Regions from separate parts of the Homo sapiens genome. Here regions 2, 3, 4 and 5 are each linked to region 1. The links come from fine-mapping of genetic effects on gene expression. A gene starts in region 1. Each other region holds a variant in brackets. All regions are shown on one strand. Distances are from middle to middle. Region 1 holds the start of RNF217 (ring finger protein 217). Region 2 has its middle 78 kb from the start of RNF217. Region 3 overlaps RNF217 (ring finger protein 217). Region 4 overlaps RNF217-AS1 (RNF217 antisense RNA 1). Region 5 overlaps RNF217 (ring finger protein 217).

Evidence for each region. PIP is the estimated chance that this variant, and not a neighbour inherited with it, causes the effect. A credible set is the group of variants that fine-mapping cannot tell apart.
Region 2: its variant is the best candidate, but not a certain one, in a credible set for the expression of RNF217 in esophagus mucosa (GTEx, PIP 0.75).
Region 3: its variant is the best candidate, but not a certain one, in a credible set for the expression of RNF217 in left ventricle (GTEx, PIP 0.54).
Region 4: its variant is the best candidate, but not a certain one, in a credible set for the expression of RNF217 in T cells (TOPMed, PIP 0.75).
Region 5: its variant is the best candidate, but not a certain one, in a credible set for the expression of RNF217 in sun-exposed skin (GTEx, PIP 0.85).

The regions. Positions count from the first base shown.
Region 1 is chr6:124,960,373-124,965,481 of GRCh38, reverse strand. RNF217 (ring finger protein 217) reads right to left here and starts at 3,045. Exons shown (of 6, transcript NM_001286398.3): 1 at 2,056-3,045. The coding sequence starts at 2,937. RNF217-AS1 (RNF217 antisense RNA 1) reads left to right here and starts at 2,455. Exons shown (of 7, transcript NR_026876.1): 1 at 2,455-2,659.
Region 2 is chr6:124,881,530-124,886,663 of GRCh38, reverse strand. No RefSeq gene overlaps it. Among named protein-coding and RNA genes, the nearest start is that of RNF217, 78 kb to the left of the region's middle. The variant A/TA (reference allele first, on the strand shown) is at 2,110.
Region 3 is chr6:125,088,153-125,093,286 of GRCh38, reverse strand. RNF217 (ring finger protein 217) reads right to left here. Exons shown (of 6, transcript NM_001286398.3): 6 at 654-5,134. Among named protein-coding and RNA genes, the nearest start is that of TPD52L1, 63 kb to the left of the region's middle. The variant C/A (reference allele first, on the strand shown) is at 2,514.
Region 4 is chr6:124,916,030-124,921,163 of GRCh38, reverse strand. It overlaps RNF217-AS1 (RNF217 antisense RNA 1), which reads left to right. Exons shown (of 7, transcript NR_026876.1): 6 at 916-976. Among named protein-coding and RNA genes, the nearest start is that of RNF217, 44 kb to the left of the region's middle. The variant T/C (reference allele first, on the strand shown) is at 2,751.
Region 5 is chr6:124,995,642-125,000,641 of GRCh38, reverse strand. The region is part of intron 1 of RNF217 (ring finger protein 217); the gene reads right to left. Among named protein-coding and RNA genes, the nearest start is that of RNF217-AS1, 35 kb to the right of the region's middle. The variant G/C (reference allele first, on the strand shown) is at 2,573.

The sequences.
Region 1 (5,109 bases):
TCTGCCTCAGCCTTCCAAGTAGCTGGGATTACAGGCATGCGCCACCATGCCCAGCTAATTTTGTATTTTTAGTAGAGACGGGGTTTCACCATGTTGGTCAGGCTGGTCTTGAACTCCCGATCTCAGGTGATCCACCTGCCTCAGCCTCCCAAAGTGCTGGGATTACAGGCGTGAGCCACCGCACCCGGCCAATAATGTGTATTATTATTTATTGAAAGTCCCAGCAAATACTTTGGAAGAAGGTCAGGCACATACATACAATCAGAAATGCTGCAGACAAGCTTCAGATACTGTGTCACTGCAGAGGAGTTTTTAGTGGTTGTACTGTACACTGCAATGACCACTTGACTATGTCCCTCTGTCTCCCTACTACCATTACTAAAACTTCCTAAAACTAACTTATGAGGTTTAATAAAGAAAAAGAAAACTGCTTTGGGGAAAGGGCCCACCATAAGGAAATCAAACTGCTAGGTAAAGTACCCCAAGCCACAATGACTACCTCCCTTGAATTTCTGGAATGTGTATCCAGCATTTAACAGGAAGTGCTATCTGGAATTGTTACTCTATTGACATCTCATCCCATGCTACCTTGTATTGTTCTTTTGTACACATCTGCTCTCACAGTGACTTCCCTGGAGGCGGGCTTATATTTTGGAAATGTCTGAATCCCATCGCAGGGCAGCGAAATCTGTTTTGAGGATGATGATACAGAAACTACCACAACCAGCAGCAGACATTCCTCCTGTTTTAAGAATCTCTGTAGATAAAGCATGAAAGAAACAACAGTCTCTCAGAGGCTTTTAAATAATCCCAACTATTTTAGCCAACTTACTGTTTATGTAACATACCGTTTTAAGTCTTTGTTTGCATTTTTAGTTAGGGACTGTACACACTTTCAGTCTAGACCCAAGCATGAGTTAGCCAAAAAACATAGAGGAATCACATGGTACGGAGCCCTGTTCAGTTTGTCCCAGCCAATGTTATTAAAAACACTATGATGGGCAAGGGACTCAACATGAAGCTACCACATATGGGACTCTAAGACATTGTCCAGACAGTCTAACAAGACAAGCAGACACGAAAGAAACAACTTCAGTGCATGTAAGATAATATAAGATACTGTGAAAGTATATAAGCAGTGACTTGGAGGGTGAGGCAACGCTTCACAGAAGAGTTGGCACCTGAACACACAGGGTTTTGAAAGATGAATAGGCCTAGGACAATTGGACACAGGATCAAAGGGCATCCAGGATTGTGCAAAACACTGGCAGAAACATCACAGATTGAAAACTGCTGGAAGAACGCATTCACCGTCAGTGAAGGAAAGCTGGTCTGGTGCACTCTCAAGCTTTCCAAGAAAAAAAACCAAGTTTTCAAATAAAAGCAGAGGAGGAAAGTTTCACCAGTGCTTGTTCTGAGAAACCTCTTAGCCTCTCTTTGCTTTGTTTTGCTCTTTCTGTTTTGCTTCCCTCTTAAAGAGTGCTGGCTTAAAACCTCAGTGAAAGAAAAGTACTTCAACTTTACTGTGGAAAAAGGAAACTGAAAAGTAGGCAAAGGCCAAGGGATACATTTTTTTAAACATTCACTCTTTCCTGGAATATACAAATGAAGCAAAATTACAAATTCATGTATTATGGGTCTGAAATATTTATTCCAATTCTTTTCTCCACCAGCTCCATAAATATTTATTCTATGCCCACTGCTTGTTAGTTTCTGGGATACCAGGCCGATGAGGCAGTCTCTTCCTCTCCTCCTTTGAGCAAGCTTGTGCTTGCAATCCTGTATAAGAAATAAGAGGAGGGCAACAACTTGTATCTTGTGCCTTCTACACATGCCAACCATAGCCTGAAGTTCACAGCAAAGTTAAATTCCAGTTAAGTAAACCAGTGAGGTCATAATACACTTAAATAACAACTGAGACGTGAGAAACTAACAGAGATCCTCAGTAAGTGTGTCGGTCACCTCTTCGCGCGAGCAGGGAGATCAGATCGAGAGCAGGACCTCCTCGCCAGTGATTTGGAATGATAAATGGGGAAGAGAAGGGGGTGAAGTTACCTGGGCGCTCAGGTAGACTTTGAGGCACTCCTCGCACACGGCCTTCTTGCAGCAAGGCAGGGGCTTGATGGGCTTGTCTTCCAGGCACACCCGGCACATCAGCACCATGAGGGGCACATAGGGATCCCCTACACCGCCCAGGCCAGAGTAGGGTGGAGCTCCCAACAGGCTGGGCATGGAGAACGGCTCGGGCGCCAGGTAGAACTCCAGCTCGATGCTGCCGCCGTCGGGGGAGAGGGAATCCGTTGGGAGGGACAGTCGGGGGCTGGGGAAGGAAGAGCGGGTGCTGGGAGGGTTCAACACTGGCGGAGCCCCAGGTGGCGACGCGGGCGGCGAGAGCTGCTCCGAGGCGGGGGCCTCGGGCAGGTCGCTCTCCACGCAGTACACGGAGCAGAAGACTTGTCTCTTGGCGAGGGACGGGCGCCGCTGACCCAGCACGTCCAGGACCAGTCCGTCGGCGGCCCCCACGCGGGTCCTGGGCTCCAGCTCTTCGCCGGGGGGCGCCTCCTGCTGTTCATCCCCTCCCTCTTTTCGATCCCCAGCTTCCTCCTCTTCCTCCTCCAGCTCCAACTGCAGTGGCAAGGTCTGGGGATTGAGAGGCCCGGTGAGTGCCAGTCCCGCAGGCTGCGCCGGTGCTCGGCTCTTACTCCAGCCCGGGGGCCCCAGGCTCCTCGCGGGCTCTGGGGCGCTGGTGTCCGCGCAGCCCCAGTCGCTTCCGCAGCCACCGCCGCTCGGCTCCGCGGAGGCGGCGCGCAGCGGGGGCGCCCGGGCGCTGTCCCCCTGAGGCCTCGGGGGCTCAGGGTGGCCCGCAGTGCCACTGGCCAGGGTCTGCGACTCCTGGGGCCCGCCGCCGCCGCTCACCGTGCTCTGCTCCTCGCCCATCGCCGCCCGCGGCCCGCGCCGCCGCTGCCCATCCAGCCGCCGGGACCCCCACCCGGCGCCCGCGGGCAGCGGGGGCAGTGGCTCGGCTCGACTCGCGGCTCCGCTTCTGCTTCCGGGTCCTTCCTCCTGGGCTGGGACGCCCCAAGTCCCCTCCGGGGAGCCCGTGCTCCGAGGCTGCGGCGCGTGGGGAGCCTGGCCCGGCCCGCCGCTCCTCCTCGTACTCTGGCGCGGCGGGGCACCGCCTCGGGGGCGCCGAGGGCCGCTCGCTCTGGGCTCGGGCGCGCCCGCCCCACATGCAGCTCGGGGCGGCGCCGCAGCCCCAGCGAGCCCCAGGCGGGACAGAGGGGTCTGGGAGGAGACGGCCGTCAGTCCCGCGCCATCACCGGTCCCGGCTGCCGGACGCGCGGCCCGAGGGCGGTGGTCAAAGGGTCGAGGGGCCTGTGGCGCCGCCGCGGCGCGCACCAGGAGGTGCAGCCGGAGCGCTGGCCAGCCGCAGGGCCCCTGGGGGAGAGGCCGGAGCGGGCGACCTCCCTCTCCCCGCGCTTCACCTACAGCCCTCCTCGCCGCCCCTCACCCCACCCCTTTGGCGCACACCTCCCCACACGTACACACGCGCGCAGGCACCCGCGCACACACACACGCACACCCTGAGTGGGTGTGATCTAAGAGCTGAGATGCGCTTTCTCGCCCGGAGTTCACACTCAGCCTCAACAAAACCCTCAGAGCAGGCAGGCTCCCCTTTGGTCTCCGCATTCAGTAGAACTTCCTACAAAACTACACTCAGCTCTGGAATTAGTAAACGCTGGCTATTTAGGATGTCGAGTTCAGAGAAATAATGCTAAGGATTATGAATTCTAAATGCTGTATATTACAACTCTGTTTTTCTGCCTAGTGGAGTAGGAAGAATCTTCGAAACCCATAAATAATCGAAAAAGCACTTTCGATCTACTCCTCCAACTGGAATCCTTAGAAGAGTTGATAACTAATTTAAAATTTCTCTCTTTTTCTTCGCCTACAGTGTTCTCTTAGAAGTTTTTTTTTTTAACCCTTTTCAGCATTCCAAAATGGATAGCACAAGGTGGAAAAATGTCCTGACCTAATTAATAAACTGGATCATTAGTGGAAATCATGGGCAGTTTCATTAGCATAACCATATTTATCCTCAAAACTGTTTCCAAAACAACAATTATATGTGAGCCAGGACTTAATTATGTGTTGATCTATCTTTATTTTACAGGAAGTATTACTCACCCAGACACTGGTGTTTTAGTTCCCTAAAGCCAGTGAAAACATTTTTGGGAAGCCAGCCCTTGTTTTGTTTTTTTTCTCCTGAGAGGGAATTCAATTTACACATTCATGTAATAGCAAGGAACTGTAAAGTGTGTAGAATTTTATTTTTTAATCTCGAAGTTGTTATTGGGTTGTTCTAAAATATTTTCCAAATCAGATGCAAATGATACAAAGGTGACTAGCGATGCAAACTAAGAAAGCAGTGTAATGCCAAAGAACATTTCCATCATATATGTGTGTCTGAGGCTCAGTTGCAAGCAAAGGTATGAATTGGATGTCTAAATGCCATGTCATCTATCGGTCTGACCCAAGAATGGAAAATTCTTATTTTGAAGATTAAATGCTATTCGAGGATTCTTTTCTTTTTTATCTCAGCTAAGTGATTTCCTGGTAACTGCTGTTTTCTCCAAATGATACTTTAAGTGCTTATTGTTTTAAAGACAGAGACAAGAAACCTACTTATGTGTGCCTTTTGAGTGTGCCATCTGATGACCAAGCCACTATTCTTTCCAGAGATATAAAAGTAATCTGCATTTTCCAGGTGACAACAGGCTAAGACCAGAGTAACAATAATGGATGCCAAAAAGTATATTCCCACAGCGTCTATTGGAATAAAACCCCTCAAAGTCCTCTTATAGTTTTGGGAACCCCTCCTCACACACATTTTTCACTCGTATTCTGAGAACTTGTTCTTCCAGTGTTTACCATTTTATTCCTTATCCCTTAGGTTCCAGCTTACTGGAAGTGGCTGTCCTCTACACCAAACCCATTAGAAGTCCCTGCTGGGACTCATGATGGCCGCCCATATCTCTGCTGCTTAAAACTGCAGCCCTTTATTTTGCCATGACTTCTTCCCTACAGAATTCATTGGGCCTTTGTGAA
Region 2 (5,134 bases), 79 kb after region 1:
CTCTTACCTCCCCTGGAAAGTCTGAATTGCTTAACTTGCAAAGGGATGTTCCTCATCGGCTGCCCCCAGCTTACCTTTCCAGTCTCATCACCTGCCAGTTTTAACATGTACTCTCCATTTCAACCATGCGGAAAGCTCCAAATGCACAATTGTGTTTGATACCTCTGTGTGCAATACGCAGTTTGCATTGTCTGGAGCCTTCTTCCTATATTCTGTTTGGTAGACTCTTACTCATTCTTCAAGATCCACATCTAATTTCACCTCCTTGTGAACCTTCTGGACCTCCCTGAGGCTGAAGCTGAGAATCCTTTTTTTTTTTTTTTTGAGACGGAGTCTGGCTCTGTCCCCCAGGTTGGAGTCCAGTGGCGCCATCTCGGCTCACTGCAAGCTCCGCCTCCCGGGTTCACGCCATTCTCCTTCCTCAGCCTCCCGAGTAGCTGGGACTACAGGCGCCTGCTACCACGCCCAGCTATTTTTTTTGTATTTTTAGTAGAGACGGGGTTTCACAGTGTTAGCCAGGATGGTCTCGATCTCCTGACCTCGTGATCCACCCGCCTCGGCCTCCCAAAGTGCTGGGATTACAGGCATGAGCCACCGCGCCTGGCCGAGGTTGAGAATCTTAGTCAATTAGGGTTGCTGTAATAAAATATCGTAGATTGGGTGGTTTATAAACAACAGAAATTTACTCCTCCCAGTTCTAGAGACCAGAAGTCTGAAATCAGTGTGCCCACATAGTCAGGGTCTGCTGAGGGCCCTGTTCCAGGCTGCAGACTGACTTCTCCTTGGTTCCTCAGGCAGAAAGAGAGCAAGAGAGTACTCTGGAGTCCCTTTTAGAAAGGCACAAATCCCATTGTTTTAGGGCTGTACCTTCATGATCTAAATTATCTCCCACCCCACCTCTTAATATCGTTGCACTAGGGGTTAGGATATCAACATGTGAAGTTTGGGGAGACACAAACATTCAGTTCATAGCACTGAGCCACTTTCCACCGGGCTTGCAGAGAACTTCCTAGAAACTCCTACCATAATGGGTATTACTCCATTCATTGTTTATGCATTTTCTCTGCTTCTAGTTTTTAAGCTCATTGAGGTAAAGGATCCTGCCTCAATAATCTCTGTGGGTGGGTGACAGCCTCCAGATATTTTAATACCAAGCATCATTTAATCTATAAACCTACTGCCTGCTGAAGAAAGAAATGACTATATGATTGGTGTGAGGTGAATTGGAAAAGGGCTGAGGTATGAGGACAGGCCTAAGGATGAGTAAGCAAACTAGCAAAGTTTGTTTATGTCTCCAAAGAATTTGCTCTAGTTTTTCCATTTTTCAAATAGTTGATGTACAGTTGACTTCAACAGTTCAACGAGAGTGAGCTAGTTTTTGGTGTCTCATTCTCTGATAAGGCATACACCTTATGTTTTGGATCACCTGTGGTGGTGGAATCATTCAGTTACTTCAGTGGAAGAATATGTGTGGAAGAACAATAAAGCCGCTGGATATCATTTACTTTAAAGTAGTAGCAAGCATTATAGCAAGCCAAGGGGATTAGATTAATTGGGAAAAATATACATAATTTATAATCTTAGAAATGAATGCCAAATGCTTTTAATCTGATTAGACTCTTTTCTTCTAGTGCAGTTTAGATATGCTCTAAATTTGTGATTCCTAAAGGGGAGTTTAATAAAACACAGGTTCTGTAGAATATTAGTAAGAATTATGTTTAAAAAGAATTTCATTGTCAACTTTGGGAAAAATGTGGTTAAAAAGAATTAAGGTGGCTTTTCTAGTATTGTTTTTCCTACCCGAATGTACGTTATAAATCTCCAAGAGATGTATGTACATGGTATAAAGCAGTTTAAATTTTCTTGACAAGAGCCTCTTCTCTCTCTATTGTAATGTATCTAGGGGTGCTATTGTTTAACAAAACACTGAGAAATGCTGTTCTAAATTAGGAGCTTTGTAAGAACTTAGTTGCCTACAAGTACACTACATATTATACCAGTTGTAACATTTTCTGTCAAGCAAATGTGTATAAGGACTAAGTATGCAGCCTCTAGCTTCTCATTTTTGCTAGCCAGGCTATGAATGAATATTCTTCAAAGATGTTTTTT[A/TA]AAAATCTCTCTGCTATCTTTTTTTTTTTTTAAAAAAAAAAACACTGTGGAATATCAGCTAGCCTGAATCTTTGTTTATTTTTCTTTTTTTATTTTAAATCAGGGGACGACAGAAGAGTAAGTGCCTCTATAATTTATATCCAGGTGAGTGCCAATATAAGAGACAGCTTCCCAGGATGTGATGGGAAAAGAGAGAGAGACAGAGAGAGAAAGAGAGAGAGACCATTTGCCTAAGGGAGCCGTGAACAGCTGTAAGGATTTTTTTTTTTTTTTTTTTTTTTTTTTTTTTGAGATGGAGTCTCACTCTGTCACCAGGCTGGAGTGCAGTGATACAATCTCGGCTCACTGCAACCCCTGCCTCCTGGGTTCAAGCGATTCCCCTGCCTCAGTCCCTTGAGTAGCTGGGACTATAGGCACACGCCACCATGCCCAGCTAATTTTTGTATTTTTAGTAGAGACAGGGTTTCATCGTGTTGGCCAGGATGATCTTGATCTCTTGACCTCGTGATCCGCCCGCCGCAGCGTCCCAAAGTGCTGGGATTACAGGTGTGAGCCACCACACACCACACCTGGCTAGATTTTTTTTTTTTTTTTTTTTTTAAGATTCAAGAGGTACTTGTGCAGGTTTTTTACATGGGTAAAGTGCATGCTGCTGAGTTTGGGGCTTCTATTGAGCCCCAAATAGTGAACATAGTACCCAGTAGGTAGTTTTTCCACTTTTGTCCCTCTCCCTCCTTCCGCCCTTTTGGAGTCCCCAGTGTCTATTGTTTCCATCTTTATGTCCAAGACAAGGATGTCCACTTTCACCACTCCTATTTAACATAGTACTGGAAATCCCAGCCAGAGCAACCAAGCAAGAGAAACAAATAAAAGGCATCCGAATAGGAAAAGAGAATGTCAAATTACCTCTGTTTGCCAATGATATGCTAAAGAAATACTAAGTACACTTCAAGAAGGTGGAAATGGCTGACTCCCTCAGGCTACTGCTCAAAAGATTTGAATAGCACAGATATAAAAGTATTAAATGTTGTAAGTTAGTGATAGAGTAAGAGAGAAAGACAGAAAGATAATTGTCTAGATGAAAAGGCAAATGATCAATCTATTTCCATGGGTTAATTTTGTTTTGTTCTAGTGTGGAAAAATTTTCCTGTCGTAAGCTGGACACTCACACCTGTATCTACCACTTTCACAATAAACAAAACAGTGTGAGGATGAGAATGGAGAGAAAGAGGAAGTGTTTTTGAACTATAAATCACTACAGGCTTGGTATAAATTCCAAACCTTTCAAGAAGTGAACTTTATTTTGAGCAATGATTACAAGATGAGATGCCAGGGTATTTCGCAATGTAAGTAATGTATTTGACCAACAAAACAATACAAAACAAAGGCAACCAAGTTAAGAACGAATTACAGAATAATGCTTGACTCACTTGAAAACTGTCCCTTATGAAATTTCATTTGACAATTTGTACTTTTCTGGTTTTGGCTGTTTGGGGGTCTTTTTCCTTCCTTGAAATAACTTGACAGGAAATGATTATTTCCACTGAGTCAAAGAGGGCATATTTACATAGTTCCTCATGATGTGATCAGGAAATCCTGTGTAGAAAAAAGTCGCTGAAAAAAAAAGGGAAAAGTGTAGCCTGCTTATGTTTTCTTAAACTCCTCCTGCCCCACCCTGGAGCCATTTAAGATACAATCTCACTTTTCTTTCTTTTTTTTTCTTTTTTTTCTTTTTTCTTTCTTTCTTTCTTGCTTGCTTGCTTGCTTTCTTTCTTTCTCTCTCTTTCTTTCTCTTTCTCCTTCCTTCCTTTTTCTTTTTTCTCTCTTTCTTTGCTTTTCTTATCTTTTTCTTTCTTTCACATAGATTTCAGCACAAAGGCTCATACATTTGGGCTTGCTTTTTTCTTCTCAACGAAAGCCTTAGAAGGTAGAGATTTCAGATGCATTTTTCTCTCTTTCCTGAGTCTGTCCAGTAACAACAGGGATAGTTGAAAAATCTTAGGAAAAGGTTCTTGCTTTGCAGGTTTCTAATCTCATTCCTGACAAGCCGTCTAGTCTCCTGCTGACGTCTAGGAGATGCACATCAAAGGCAGAAATGATCTAGGCTCTGTGATCTCTCTTCTGAATGAGAGTGATGCTGCCAGCCAGGAGGGGGCTGTCACTTCAGACTCTCCAGCAAACTTGAGCAGCTGCAGCTGTCGCCTGAGGGAAAACCAGATGCATCAGTATTTTGAATGTGCTTTCAGATTTGCTAGGAATGCATAGACATGTTGCAATTGCTTTGCAGGACTCTGCTATTTGAAATCTGTCACAAAGTCAATTCCAATTTGGATACTAATATGATTACTGTTTGAGTGTTAGATGCCATGTACTAAATTTTACGTGAGGGTTCATCTATTTTTACCTACAAGTTCTATGAACCCCATGTGATAAATAGGGAACCTACCCAGGATGTCTAAGAAACATAGTGAGTCAGTTCTGTAAATGGTAATCTGGCAGCACATCTATTCTCCAATAACTTTCAACCATTTATGTTCACCCTATAACCTATTCCATCCTTGGGCAGGATAAGGGCCATTTATTGTCACCTGGGAATAAAGAATTAGCAAGTTAATCAATTGCTCTAGTTCAAATTTGTGTGGAAGTATTATTATTGTAGTTCAGGGATAGAAAATGATGCCTTTTTATATTATATGAATTTGTCTATATTGGCTACTGGGTATTCAAATGTGACTCACTCTCAAGTTGCTTTTCTTTGTAAAGAAGGCCAGCCAGTTTTGCATTTCCCAAATCTGGTTCTCTCCTTCTATAGCTATTTCCCAAGTTTGCTGTTTTTGTCACTTAGAAAGTTTGAACATGATAACTTAAGATTATATCACAGAGTTCAAAGTTTTAAAGACCATAATTCTTCCTTGTTCTTTTGACTGAGGATCTTGACCTTTAACCTAAGAGATATTTAAGATGTTTGAAAGTTAGTTGAATTCTTTGATCAACTAGTAGGGTTTGCATTAATCAAAAGCAAAAA
Region 3 (5,134 bases), 130 kb before region 1:
TGTGGTCCTATAATATATACTGTATTGTGCCTGGCTTCATCTGCTCAACATAGTATCTGTGAGAGTCAACTGTATTTTTGCATAGATTGCTCTGTAATTTTTCAAAATTAAGATTATTTTCATTCTAATTGTTCTATAATATTCCATTCTATGAATATATCACAATATATTCATGATTTTACTGTTAAGGAAAATTCTTGTACTTACCCTTTGGTCAACAAAGGCCATTCTTTCCTTAGTGACAGATCTAGGAAAATCATTGCTAGGTTATAGAGTAGGCGTATATATTTGGCTTTAGCAGTTTAGTGGTTTCTGCTTTCCCACCCCTGTATAGGCCCCTTGGTCTAGAGAGTAAAGACCACCCTAAGCTGATCTCTTACTTCCACACTATTTGCTTCTTTTTCATGCCTCATGCAGAATGTTTGCACTGATCTTCACTATTCTGTGCTCTTTCCCCAAAACGTGCCACAGCAACACAACACAATCCACCTTCCCAAAAGCACACCCTTGAATTTCTGTTCATTCCTGCTCCTCCATTTCTAGAGTCCAATGTAGAAATTACTCCAGTAACTGTAGGCACAATAGTTTTGTTGCTGTGAAGTTTTATTTTTAATTTTTTAAAAATCCAAACCTATTGGAAAAAAAGACAAGAATTTTCTCTTTTAAAAACTTTTATTACGCATTGCTAAATAACATTGCATGATGTATTGCACACATCATGTGGTAAACAGCACTCCACAGTAATCCATACAATAGCTCGTACAATGACCATCAAAATAGTTTGAAAACCGTTATAGTTTTCATCCGAGTGAGTGTCTTTATATTCTTCCATGCAATCTGATTTCATAATTAAGATTACTCTTCCATTCTACAACAACCAACCGAAAATAATTTTTTATAAAAGCCCAACCACAACAAAAGGTCATTGGGACATTACGAAAAGTCGGAAATTAGACTCCAAAATATCACAAGGTGTCCGTCTTTTGAAAGACTTGTCCCTAAAATTTGTGTGATCTGACACTTGGGTTGCTTTTACCGCCAGCAGCATGTGACACTGTACTTACTGAGAAGGAACAGTACATTGACATATCGACTGAAAATTCTTGAGGTAATAGATTTTTAAATTTCACTGCTTAAAAAAAAAAATCTCTTAATTTTCAGGTCCTGTCCAGCAGGACCTACCTGTTGGCAGGAAGATTCTTTTCCTTTTTTTTTCTTTGTCAAATATTTACACATAACTGCATATACAACCTGTCTTTGTCTTTTCTAAGCACATGGTTTAGTTTAATTATTCAGCATACATTCATCAGGAAAAGTTGAATTATATATTATGATACATAAAGAATATAACAAACCTAGCATTTTGTATAAAGCTAAAACAAAAGGCACAGATCAAGAAGAGCAAAATAACATATTATATAAACAGGGTTGATGTTGATAAAGCTCACTGGGAACAAATAACATGTAAATAGCAGACACCATGGTTCTCTAGCATCTGTATGAAAGTATATTACTGACAAAATATTGCCAAGAATAAGTTGTAAGGAACTGGTCAAATTCCTGAAGTACCATACAGTTACTTTTATTTTTAATGCTTTTTGTAAAGTAATTTTGTCCTAATTGGAGCTATAGATAAAACTGAGAGTCATTTCAACTCCTGTTCTAAACTTAATTAGCATTTTTTATGGTTTTAAAGTACAATTCAATTTTAATGGCTTTAATTTCTGGTGTTTAATATCCATTTGTATAGGTTAGCTTAAAAATGAACAATGAATTTAAGAAAAATACATTGGCTAACCTGTTTTAGAGATAATACAGTAGATTAAGGTAGCAAACGCAGCCTATATACATCCCTAAAGATATGCTTTCTCCTTAGCACTTTAAATAGAGGGACCAAAGAACACTCACAAAAAATATATGGCTCTTTAGATAAGAAATAAAGTCAAGTGAAAAAAATAAGGCACTAATAACGTATATGAATGTTATATACTCATCACACAAAGCACCATATGGAAGGTTAAAGGGATTATACATTAGTGCTATTGGAAAATGAGAATAAACCCAGTTTCCCTGGCTTTTATTCACCAACTTCTTCCTTTATTTTCAGTAATTAGAGTGTAAATGCTAACGTGGTAGAAAAGTATATACTATGCTAAAAACACAATTCATGGAAACAACAGCATGAAATAATAATTTGGAAATAAGTTGATTGCTCTAAAAAGTGTAAGAAATTAGGTTTTTAAGATACTCCTTATTTCTCAACATTTCATCTCAACGTAATTTTTCCTTTGCAATTTCTTTTGAGAGATTTCTGCATATCAACATTGTCTAATTAAAAAATTTACTCTACCCCTCTCTTTCATAAAATATAATCAGAATGATTTCTTCCACATAGTTTTGTGATTATCAAAGTTAATAGTATAACTAATGAAATGGAGAAAAGGTTAAAAAATAAAATTGCATAAATATTTTCCAATATCATTAAAAAGAATCAATGAAATCTCTTTTCAACC[C/A]GGTCCATTTTAAACTTGAAAAATATTATAACTTACTTTATTTGGAAAATGGCTGCAAATTTTATAGAAAACTAAAAATATGCAATCTAATGAAATGATGGACAAGATCTGGTACAAATTACTATTCATCTTATGATCAAGAAATTTCTTCTAATTTTCTATTGTTAAGGAGAATATAATTAAAATGGAATACATTCTGATACTTAGAGGATGACAATAATTCCTTAGAACTGTAATTTCTGAATATACAGTAATAACAGATAAACACTCGAATTTTTTTCTCTTTAATATTTTACTCTATTTGGGAAAAGAATGAATAATTGTCCCACAGTTTTGAAATAGATATACATTGATATAAATGTTTGTTTCATAAAATTGCCTTACAATTTTGTTTAAAATAGAATCAAAACAACTGGTTCTTTGTTAACATTTTAACATCACTGTTGTGTTCCTTCTACAGAAAATCATTTCTGTCATCTCTCAGAATTTACTAATTACTATGTTAATTGCTTCTAAAAGCAACAAAATTGTCAATTTTCATATTAAAAATCTGTAACAGATTGTCCTTGTCAAGGTAAATGGTTTTATATATATACAAACTAATTATTATTCTATGTTTCACGTGAAACATAAGGTTGGTCTACTTTTTAAAATACCCTCTAGAGGATTGCAATTGTGATGAAAATGATCAAATAATAAAAGTAAGCTATTGAGGAGTTGCCATATGACACTTAAAAAAATGGGTCTTAGAAGGGTTTCTTGTCAGCTGATAATGAAATTATGATACTTTATCTAGACTTTTCATTATAAAGAAACATAAAGCATGCTAATTTTCTATAAAATGAAAGAATTTAGATATTTATATCAAAAATTTAGATACTAGTGGCTTGAAACAATACAAATATATGGGGATATTGAAGAAGTAATACATTCACAAAAATGCTGTTTTTAAGGATTTGATTGGATTACTAAGAATATTTCCCAAGCTGGGGCATGGCGAAGTGAACACATCACAGATTCGCAGAGAACCAATGACAGCATAGCTTGCCAGCCACAAGAATCTAAAAGGACATTTCAGCAATTTCTGGGGTCCTTTAACACTCAAGTCTGTCTCTCCCTTTTTCTTTCCTGTTATGTACTGAATCTATACTAAATATATTGAGTGTGGCATATCTAAATCATATCAATAAAAAAGTCAAACACTTGCAAATGACAAATGTTTTCTCTAGAATAGGGTTAATATCAGTTACATTCAATGTGACCTACTTTAGATTATTAAAAATCTAACAATGTTCACAGAGCATGAATCCATAATTGAATCTTATATACAAATGCTACACTATATAAATCCACCCCAAGTCCAAGCTGTAGGACGTTTTGCTGAAACAAAGACCATAAACCATACCTATAACCCTTTTTGGATGGAGAATGAATGACCTGGGGTCAGGTTGGATGAATGTCCACACATGCTTTCTGTCCAACTAATACGCAAACACAATATTGATCTTACAACAGTCACGAAGCAATTTCTGAAGCTTGGTTTTAGACTATTATTAGGCCCTCTGATCCAACTGGTATCTTCATTTGCTTGACTTACTTCTTGGCAGAGGGCTAGGCAGTGTTCTCCAACTCCTATCAAGAGGGAAAAGTGTTCCAGGCACTCCTGATACATTTCCATTTACAAATAAAATAAGCCAAGGTAAATTATGCTCACTACCAGAGCTAAATTCTGGAGTGCGTTCAGTGTTGAATTCATTTCATTACAGTGAAAGGAGTTACGGGCGAGACAGAATTTATCCCACACTTGGCCAAGATGGGAAGAAGACTGCAGAGGCAAAAATCAAGATAATTAGGAAATTTAAGAGAAAAAGGAGCTTGATGTTGTAGTATGTGGGTATCATTTCACAAGGAAAGTCATTTAGTATTAATAATGGAATAGAGTGACAGAATATAGCACAGAACTGAAAAAAAGTATTTTTTATCTTAGTAAGTCTGAATAATTTAAGTGATACAAAGTTAGATACACCAAATGAAAATTTTTAGAAGAAAAAAGGAAGTGACAAAAAAGGGCAATGGCAATGTTTTGTGTATTTAAAAAAAATTATTGCCTTTTACATTCATACTGTTATTCTAAAATAGTCACTTCTCTAGCCAAAAAGATATATATAGTTTGTAACATGCATAATTACATTCTTTTAAAACTGGCAATATGTATAGGGATTTTGTAAGGTATGTGATATGGTAAAGCTTCAGCTAATGCTCCAAAGAAGCAATGAGAATAGTCTCACTACTGTGACTCTGTTTCTTGGATTTGGATGAAGTCAACCAAAGTTACAGCCTTACAATTAGTAACAATAGAAGTCCCACACAAAGTTTGGCTATGAAATGTGTATTTGTTCTATTTTCAAAATCAGAGTTTCAAAGGAGTCCCACTGTAATTCTTTCTTAAAGATTTGTATCATTGGTTTGCATCCAAAAGGTAACATTTCACAATCTTAAAATACTCCCCAAATTTTGGAACTCTGATTTTGTTCTGATAATACTTTAATGCTTCTATAAAATTATTTGTTTTATCAAATTAATAATTGTGGCTATAAAAATTAACAATGTGATTTTGAAGA
Region 4 (5,134 bases), 44 kb after region 1:
TCCTGAGGAGAAATACAATCCAGTTACAGAAATTTGCATAAGTAACAAGAAGCCAAATGTTAATCACCAAGACACTAGGGAAAATGTCTCCAGGGCATGCCAGAGGTCTTTAGGGAGCCCCTCCCATCACAAGCCAGGAGGCTTAGGAGGAAAAATATGGTTTTGTGGGCCAGGCCCAGGGCCTTGGTGCTTTGTGAAGTCCCCTGGACTTGGTGCCCTGTGTCCCAGCAGTGGCTAAAAGGGCCAGCGTACAGCTCAGGCCGTTGCTTCAGACGGTGCAAGCCCCAAGCCTTGGCTGCCTCCATGTGGTGTTGAGCCTGTGGGTGCACAGAAGTCAAGAATTAAGGTTTGGAAATCTTCACCTAGATTTCAGAGGATGTATGGAAATGCATGGATGTCTAGGCAGAAGTTTGCAGCAGGGTTGGAGCCCTCACAGAGAACCTCTGCTAGGGCAGTGCAGAAGGGAAATGTGGGGTGGAAGCCCCTACACAGAGTCCCCACTGCGGCACTGCATAGTGGAGCTGTGAAAAGAGGGCCACCATTCCCTAGAGCCCAGAGTAGTAGATCCACCAACAGCTTGCATCGTGCACCTGGAAAGGCCATAGACACTCAATGCCAGCCTGTGAAAGCAGCCAGGAGGGGGGCTGTACCCTGCAAAGCCACAGGGGTGGAGCTGCCCAAAGCTGTGGGTGCCCAACTCTTGCATCAGCATGATCTGGATGTGAGACATGAAGTCAAAGGAGGTCCTTTTGGAGTTTTATCATTTGACTGCCCTGCTGGATTTCAGACTTGCCTGGGGCCTGTAGTCCTTCATTTTGGCCAATTTCTCCAATTTGGAATGGGTGCATTTACCCAATACCTGTACCCTACCCCCACTGTATCTAGGAAGTAACTAACTTGCTTTTGATTTTACAGGGTTATAGGCGGAAGGGATTTGCCTTGTCTCAGATGAGACTTTGGACTGTGGACTTTTGAGGTAATCCTAGAATGAGTTAAAACTTTGGGGGATTGTTGGGAAGGCATGATTGTTTTTGAAATGTAAGGACATGAGATTTGGGAGGGGCCAGAAGTGGAATGATATAGTTTGGCTGTGTCCCCACCCAAATCTCATATTGTATTGCAGCTCTCATAATCCCCATGTGTCATGGGAGGAACCAGGTAGGAGGTAATAGGATCAATGGGGCAGGTTTTTCCCATGCTGTTCTTGTAATAGTGAATAAGTCTCATGAGATCTGACAGTTTTAGAAAGGGCAGTTCCCCCTGCACATGCTCTCTTGCCTGCTCCCATGTAAGACGTGCCTTTGCTCCTCCTTTGCCTTCTGCCATGATTGTGAGGCCTCACCAGCTGTGTGGAACTGTGAGTCCATTAAACCTCTTTTTCTTTATAAATTACTCAATCTCGGGTATGTCTTTATTAGCAGTGTGAGAACAGACTAATACAGGAATCAAAGTAGTAGATGTGGAAAATGTTGTAGGCAATCAATAGAGTAAGGAACCAGTTTTAGAATGGTCAGGAAGGCCGTATCAAAAGAATAGGGCCCTAGTAGGATATTAAGATGACCAAGTGGGAGGGGAGTTTAAATGAAATGTGAGGAAAAAGGAAGGCACAAGGCAGATTTTGCATAGGAGCTGCCAAAAGAAGCAAAAGAAATAGAGATGATGATTTCTGTCCTCATGGAACTTACGTATAAATGAAAACACTATAAACAGAAAAGAAAACATGAAATATTTAAAAGAACCATATTTTATGGACTATGTTAATTAATATTATGGGTTGTCTATATGCAATGCTGAAGAAGCATTAGAGTGGCTGTGCTTTTCTGGTATTAGGAGAGTATTGTGGAAGAAATGGGTTTGGAGTCACAGTTTAAAGACAGTCATGGATGTGAATTTCTTAGTCTTAATTCATATTCTCACTAAAGTATTTGATTGCCTAGTAAATATATATTGAGTGTCCATTCTGTAGCAGGTTTTCAAAGCCTAATAAACTGCATTTGAAAGGTTTTCCCCTTTATTGTTCTTTATAAATGTAACTTGTAATTGCTGCAATGAACCATAATTACTTAAAGCCAGATTAGATGAACTGTAAGTGCCATTACTAACCCTCTTAATTAGGGAAAGCAAGCTCAAGGGAAAATGAAAATGGATGCAGTGATGATTGCTTGTACTCAAGTGCAACAAGGACACTCAAGAGAAGTTATACTACAGTATTCTAATTCTAAGCTTATTTATGCATTAAAAAGTTGACCATTTAATAAATGTTCTTACTGCTATTTTGAAGTCACATCCCAAATCCTGAAATCTCTAGTTTGGTTTTTTCCATTAATAAGCCATTTAAATATTTGTATCCAGTGAAAATCCCTCTTCTGACAACTAAATATAGAAAGCTAATCACTTCGTGGTTAGACCCAATGAACAACAAGCTTCTCAAACTTAATACTCATTTATTTATTTATTTTTTGCTTCAATTGAATGCCAATTGTTTCATTTTCCCATTATTTTGATTTCTAAGGGAAGATAACTCTAACCTAGCTTAGATGGAGGACACAAAAGAAATAGACTTTTATTTTCCTACAGAGAATATAAATTCACAAATGTAAAAGACTCTTGCCACATTCACTTCCTTCTTTTCTAGCTCTCTTCATTATGGAAGTGGTAGTAAATAATTCCTGGAGAATTATATAGATTAATTGTTGTCAGGAAAACAAAACCGAAACCAAAGTAACAACTAAAGAATGCTACAGAACTTC[T/C]TGTGCACTCTTTGAGCATAATGTCTGCTCTATGTCTCTCACAAGGCAAGATCTCTGCAACTCAGGCCTCCTAAGGGACCTCTATTACCAGCCTCTAAAGACTTAGTTGGAATGTTTGAACATGTTTTAATATAGTAAGAGCTTTTTAATTTTCTTTCAATTAACAAAGTTTTATTATCATCAAACAGGGCCTCTAGAACTATATCTGATGAATTATTCAAAAAGGGTTGTGAAACAGGTTCACTGTGCATTGATTACCAATTTGTCTGAATCTAGTGAGACAGAATACCCCTCACACAAGTTATATTTAGATATTTTATTATAGATAGCAGCAAGAGTTTACAGAAACCTGGGATTCATTGTGAGCCAGTTCTTCACGGCTCAGGAAAGTCACCCAAGGCAGTTGAGAAACCCCAGAAAACAGCCTTCCCTGGTTTTATGCCCCAGGGGATTATGACATGCTGAGCTAAAGTATTAATGAACATCCTCTTCTGGGGGGTTAGAACAAGCCAGAGCTATTTGGACTAGCTCCCCCTTATCCCAGCACATTCTACAGTTATTCTTGAGAACTAAAAGGGAGGAAGGCAGAAAAACTGGGTTTGTCCAAAGGGGCACCCAGAGAACTGCCCTACAGAAGGTAAAGGAGGTAGAAGCTTATACATATTTTATACTGGAGTTTAGATGCAAAACAATGTGGTGCCTAAGGATATAATATTTGCAGTAAAAAAACCCAGAGTTTGAATAACTCTTGTCGTGTGACTTTAGAGAACTCCCCACCTCCCCATTTTTTAAAGCAAAACATTTTTTACTACAAAATAATGTATGACAGTTGTCATAAAAATATTCAAAACATCACTAAGAAATTGTATTAAGTCATTCTTGCATTACTAAAAAGAAATACCTGAGAGTGGGTAATTTATAAAGAAAAGAGGTTTAATTGGCTCACAGTTCCGCAGGCTGTACGCTGAAAACATAACTCCAGCATCTGCTCAGCTTCTGGGGCGGCGTTAAGGAGTTTTTACTCATGACAGAAGGCAAAGTGGAAGCAGGTACATCACAGGGACAAAGCAGGAGCCACAGAGAGAGAAAGTGGGGTGGGGGAGGTGCCACACACTTTTAAATGACCAGATCTTGTGAAAACTCACTCATTTGCAAAGAGAGCACCAAGCCATGAGAGATCCACTGCCATGACCCAAACACCTCCCACTAGGCTCTACCTCTAGCATTGGGGATTACAATTCAACATGAGCTTTGGGTGGGGAAAAATTACCAAACTATATCAGAAACAAATGGTAAAAATTGATCATCTATTTTCTCTTTCAGTCTTATTGCCCAGAGGAAACCATATTTACAGTATGTCCATAGGAACTTTCTTCATATATCTTCTTTTTCTGTCATGTAGATACTAATTTTAAAAACAACAAATACCAGATTATATTTGTTTGACAAAAATACTTCTGAAAATTATGCAATTATGTGAGTGAATTACTTAAACTCTTTAAGCCTTAGTGTCCTCGACTATAAGGTGAGGATGTTAATTCCTATTTCAAAAAATATGATGAGGAATAGATGAGTTAAAAGCAAAGTGCTTAGTAAAGTGACTGAAATATGGAAAAGGTTCAATAAATGCTGCATGTTAGTTATCCAGGGCTCTTGCTCCTTTTCACTTCTCTGGTTGCAGTGCACTTTCAGTGTTCTATATGTAGTTGCACAAGTGCATGTTATCCATTTATATCAGCCCATATCCTAGAATCAGTAACGGTTCATGGAAGACGCTTAATCAGTGATCACTGAATGAATGAACACACCATGAGTCTAATACTTATTGAGCTGCTTTGCAAATATTTATTATGTCAGTTTGTCTCCTTTTCTTCTCAAAGCTCCTTGAAGACAGTGGCTTCCTTGTCTCACTCATTTTTTTTACTCTACATCACACAAAGTAGGCCTTAACCAATATTTCGTAAACACAGGCATGCTCCTAATCTAGTCAAACTTAGAGCTACTCTTTACTTCTGCATAAGAAATTTGAAAGGAGCACATTCTAAAGGCTGACTGTGGAGTAGAAGGAGCGCCTCACAGCCTTATTCATCTCAGGCAATCTGCCGTTCTTTTAAAGAGCTGAATAATCCTTTCTAGGTCCTTCTGACATTTTGATCTAGAATGCTTGCTTGGAGACTACCAAGGAAAGGGGATCTGATGTTCAGGATTATGATTTATCTTTGAAAGAACCCACAAGGGAGAGAGAATTCATAGAGTTGAGGAAAAGCCAAAGATCTCTGGGGTCTTTTCTGGTTGGCCACCAGGCCTGGATTGACTTCTCTCTTCAAGCCCTCTGCATTTTTGGAGCAAAAAATCTTGACTAGGCACAAGGTATTGACTCTTCA
Region 5 (5,000 bases), 35 kb before region 1:
TGCATACAAATCTGAAATGTACCATATTTTCCTAGAATACCTGATTAATGTGAGGATCAAAATTACCCTAGTAAATTATAAAATAATAAATATTTAAGGATGAATCAGTAGTTGTTTTCAAAAAATAATAATTTTTTCTTTATAGAATATTATATCATATAAAAATGGCTGAACAATTTACAACTATTGTCTGATATCTATAATGCCCCCTTACATTTACACATTGTGTATTATATATAACATATCATATAACATTATGTGTGTTTCTCAAAGTGTAACCTAATATACAGCAACTATCACTATAGTAAAAGAGTCTTGTTTTAATCAGCTTTAAGACAAATTTTTAAGTAATAATTCATGTTATAATACCATTCAACAGAATACATTTTTAGTTTCTAGAATCGCAAACAAACTAAAACACCAATTTAAATTCAAAATAATGGTACGATGTGGCAAGGTTTTATACTATTAATACTATTTGCCAAGCACTAAAAAAAAATAAACAGAGATGTAAATTCAGAAAGTAAATATTAAATAATGGGACTGCATTCCATAAGCCAAGGTTTCTCTAGCTTAAACAGAGATATAGCTTGAGAGAACTGAATCATTACAAGACCAGTGGCAGTAATCAGTACAATGCTCAGTTACACTAATTTAGTTTCAGCAAACAGCAGCAAAAACAACAATATTGTTCATTAAACTGATCTTGTCAATTTGTAAATAAGCTATTGGTGGTATAATTGTTCTGGGACCTTTTTCATATATTTATTTAATAGTTTAATAGCTGTTTATCTGTATAAGAGAAATAAGTAAGTATAAAGTATGTGAAAAGTACAACTGGATTTTTTTTTAACGTTACAATGCTAAGTCAACACCAGGGGTCCATGATAATTTTTTCCTTTAAAGGTTGTCTGAACATTTCTCAATGTTGAAAAATTCTGCTCCAAGCTTTTCAAAGCAGTTTTCATCATTTTATTTGATCCACAGAACAGCCCTAAGGCTCACCCTCACTTTCAAGATTAAGCAAATGTGGCACAGATAGATCACCTGGCTTGACTGTAGTTATACTTTAGGCTCTGGCAGAACTACAGTCTATGAGCCTAAAGTACAGTGCATTTTCTACAAGATCACACTAAACATAACAATGAGTTTGAACCACAATTTTAAAGCTTGAAAAAAAAAAGGTAAAGATCAATTGTATTTGCTCTTTTTCTAAAAGAAGTGGGAAAGATGAGAGAAGAGATACACTTACAGGAATTCACAAGACAGAAAGCATGCAGTGAAACTGGAGAAGGGATCTGCTGGGGAATCAGCTAAGGAAGAAATGAATCCCTGCCAGCTTGAAGTGCCAACTTCCTTGTGCACCTGCGGTTAGAAACTCATGACACGGGCAGATTAAAAATGGAATGACATTCCTACAAGAGGAAATTTAAAATGAAATATACCAAAGATCAGCCAGTCTCAGAACTGGACTAGGGGCCACTAGGCCTTGTTTGTCTTCAGTATAATACACAGTATGTTTTTCCTAGTATGCTTTTTAGAGGCACGAAGTCACCTTAAGAAAGAAGTTGTGTTTTATGTCAAATACTGCTATAAATCAACTGCAAGCTCTATACTATATGTAAAGGTATAATTACATGTATCTATTTTTGAAAACAAAAAGTGGCAACAAAAGGCACTTTTGAAGGAGTCAATTCCACATGTACTTTTTCAGGGCCTATTACATGTAAGGCATTGTTCTGGACCAAAGTGAGAATAGATTCCTTGCCCACTACATGTTTACAACCATACAGGTGCTTATAATCTTATGTTGACAAAATATTACTACACAATTTTTGTTTTTTGAGACAGAGTCTCGCTCTGTTGCCCAGGTTGGAGTGCAGTGGTGCGATGGCTCACTGCAGCCTCCCCCTCCCAGGTTCAAACGATTCTCCTGCCTGGGCCTCCTGAGTAGCTGGGACTACAGGTGCACGCCACCATGCTTCACTAGGTTTTTTGTATTTTTAGTTAGAGATGGGGTTTCATCATGTTGGCCAGGATGGTCTTGATCTCCTGACCTCATGATCCGCCCACCTTGGCCTCCCAAAGTGTTGCGACTACAGGTTTGAGCCACGGCACCTGGCCTTCTACACAGTTTTTAAATGTTATGACCAATATTAAAAAAATGTATATAGAAAAATGGTAGAGAAATTCTGAATTTTGGGATCATGGACAAAGTGAAGATGGAGATAAGCAGACAGATTTACATGAGGCTTTAGGAAAAGTTGAATTCGTCTTCACTTCCCCTTGTCCATATCCCACAGCAGTTTGTACCTCTGTTAGAGAATCTGAAATGGGGGAAAGGAGCTGAGGGAAGAAAAAAGGCAAATGTAAATGACATACAAGGTGAATCCATGGGATAGGAGAATAGAGGGGCAAAATGAGGGAAGTAAAGTGTGAAAAAATAAGGTAACGGAGATGATGAAGATTTGAGGCTACGTGACTGGGAGAATGAAAATGCCCAGAGCTGAGAATAGAAATGACTGGAACATGAAAGGATGAAGTGGTGAATGGTCTGGAAGAAATATTAAAA[G/C]TTTGCTCTGAACATATATAATCTGAGGCATCTGAGGAGCCATGTCAATTAGGAGATGCCCCTTGCTCACAATCAGAAAAGGAATGCCGGAGTCAGGCAGACATTCAGGATTCAACATGGAAATTTTGGAGTCACCGTCACATAAGAACAGGTAAGGACAGTTCAAGCGGTGGGATCAGTAAGGTCAAAGGGATACTACAGGATGAAAAAATTAAAAGCAAGGCAGATATTGGAGAAATACATTAAGTTAGTAGAGTCTAGAAAAGCCTTTGAGGGAGAGACAACTAAAGGTGAGAAAGTAAAGAAAACAAGCAAGGGAAAGTGTTCAGGGCTGTAGAGAGAGCGAGCAGATTAAAGATGCAGGATTTACCCTGAAACTAGTGTCCAGGTATCTCATCGCCACAGGCTGTTTCCAAGGACCTATGAATGTGCTCAATGCGTCAGATGTTTTTGCAGGAGTGAGAGATTTAACTGTAATTGGTTAAGACCCCTGTCACTTTCCACTCTGACTTGCCCTTCATCAATGTGTCTGCTGTCATTACTACAGCTATGAGTGAACATTTTTCGGATTTGCCTAAGAAGTATTTGAGATGGGAATATATTAACTCGAGTTGTGTGAACCTGTCTATGTGATTTACAGTCACTTTCGCATATGGTTAAGTAATTGGCAGAGCCCTAGGGTAGGAATGATTTCCAGGAATATCTTCCATCCTTTTGTGCTGACTTACCTGGAGTCATGACTTAAGCACCAGGATTGTAATACAACATGTTCTATAAAGCTCAGGGTGGGGAACATGCGAGTAGTGAAGCAGCCATACATGCAAATACATGGAGCCGTGAACTCTTCTATAGAAAAATCCTTTCAATCATCACACAGAACATTTTAAACAGAGGATTCTCTTTTCTATGCCTGGTCAAAACAGAAATTCTCTTCTCATCAGTTTAACAAATGAATACACACCGGACCAAAACAGAAAATAAATTCTTTTTTGACAGAAATGATGAAAAAATAGACTCTACCAGCACGTCCGTGTTTGTAGAACCTAAACTTGCAGGAGTGCTACAAACAAGTCTGTGTGAAGAGGAACATATTTTATGCATCTCCACTGTCAATACTAAACCATATTAAGATGATTTAAAGAAAATACGGATCATTTTTATACTCCAACTTTCAAAATTACATTACAAAATTTTCATTATACAAAGGTAATCAGGCTTTATATAGTAAAAAATAGATAAGTAATATAAAGATATACAAGGCAGTTAAGAGGAATGTTATATTTTAAAACTGCAATATTTGTAGTATTTGGTAGCTTTTAAAATTTGTAATTGTTGTGACTTATAGTCTCATTGTAATCATTTACTTTTGCATCTAACTTTATATTCATAACTTAGTCTTAAAGAGTATGCTCACACTGTATATGCTTCAGGTTACACAAAACTTGACTCTTCCCCTCATTATGAAGTTTGCCTTCAAGAGCCAATGTCAACAGAGCTGTGGGGACAGAATTCAGATTGCAATGGATTAAAGATAATTAAAACTCTTCATAAAAGACATCATAAAAATAGAAAAAGAAAACCATGAATTGGTAGAAGATATCCACAACACACATTTAACTAACAAAAGATTAGTATTGAGGGTATAAAAAATAGAACTCCTATCAATCAGTAAGAGACAACCCAAGAAACAGAAAAATGGGCTAAAGATAAGAAAAAGCACATCAGAGAAAACATAAATTATCTTCAAAAATTAAAAAAATCTTCAAAATTAAAAATCTTCAAAAATAAAAAAAGCTCAAGCTAATTATAAATGAGGGTAATGAACACACAAAATCATGAGATGTTTATTCATACCCTGCAGACTGGCAAAACACTTAAATATACGATGAAGTACTGTTGAGGTTATGGAGCAATGGGAACTTTCATCAGCTGTGGAGCGAGTATCAACTGGCACAACCACTTTGGAAAACAATTTGGCAATACCAAGCCAGGTTAAAGATTCATGGCCTTGTGAAGCAACAAAACCTTTCCCAGATTTAAAAAATCTGGAAAAATTCCTATACATGTACATAGTCTGTAAGAGAAATAGAAAAAAAAAACCCAGAAATATTCCAAATGTTTTTCTTTTCTTGATTCTTTTTCTTTTTTGAGACAAGAGTCTTGCTCATCACCCAGGCTGGAGTGCAATGACACGATCTCGGCTCACTGCAACCTCCACCTCCTGGGTTCACATGATTCTCCTAGCTCAGCTTCCCGAGTAGCTGGGATTACAGAAGTCCATCACCACGCCCAGCTAATTTTTGTAATTTTAGTAGAGATGGGGTTTTGCCATGTTGGTCAGGCTGGTCTCGAACTCCTGACCTCAGGTGATCCACCCACCTCGACCTCCCAAAGTGCTGGGATTACAGGCATGAGCCACAGCACCCGC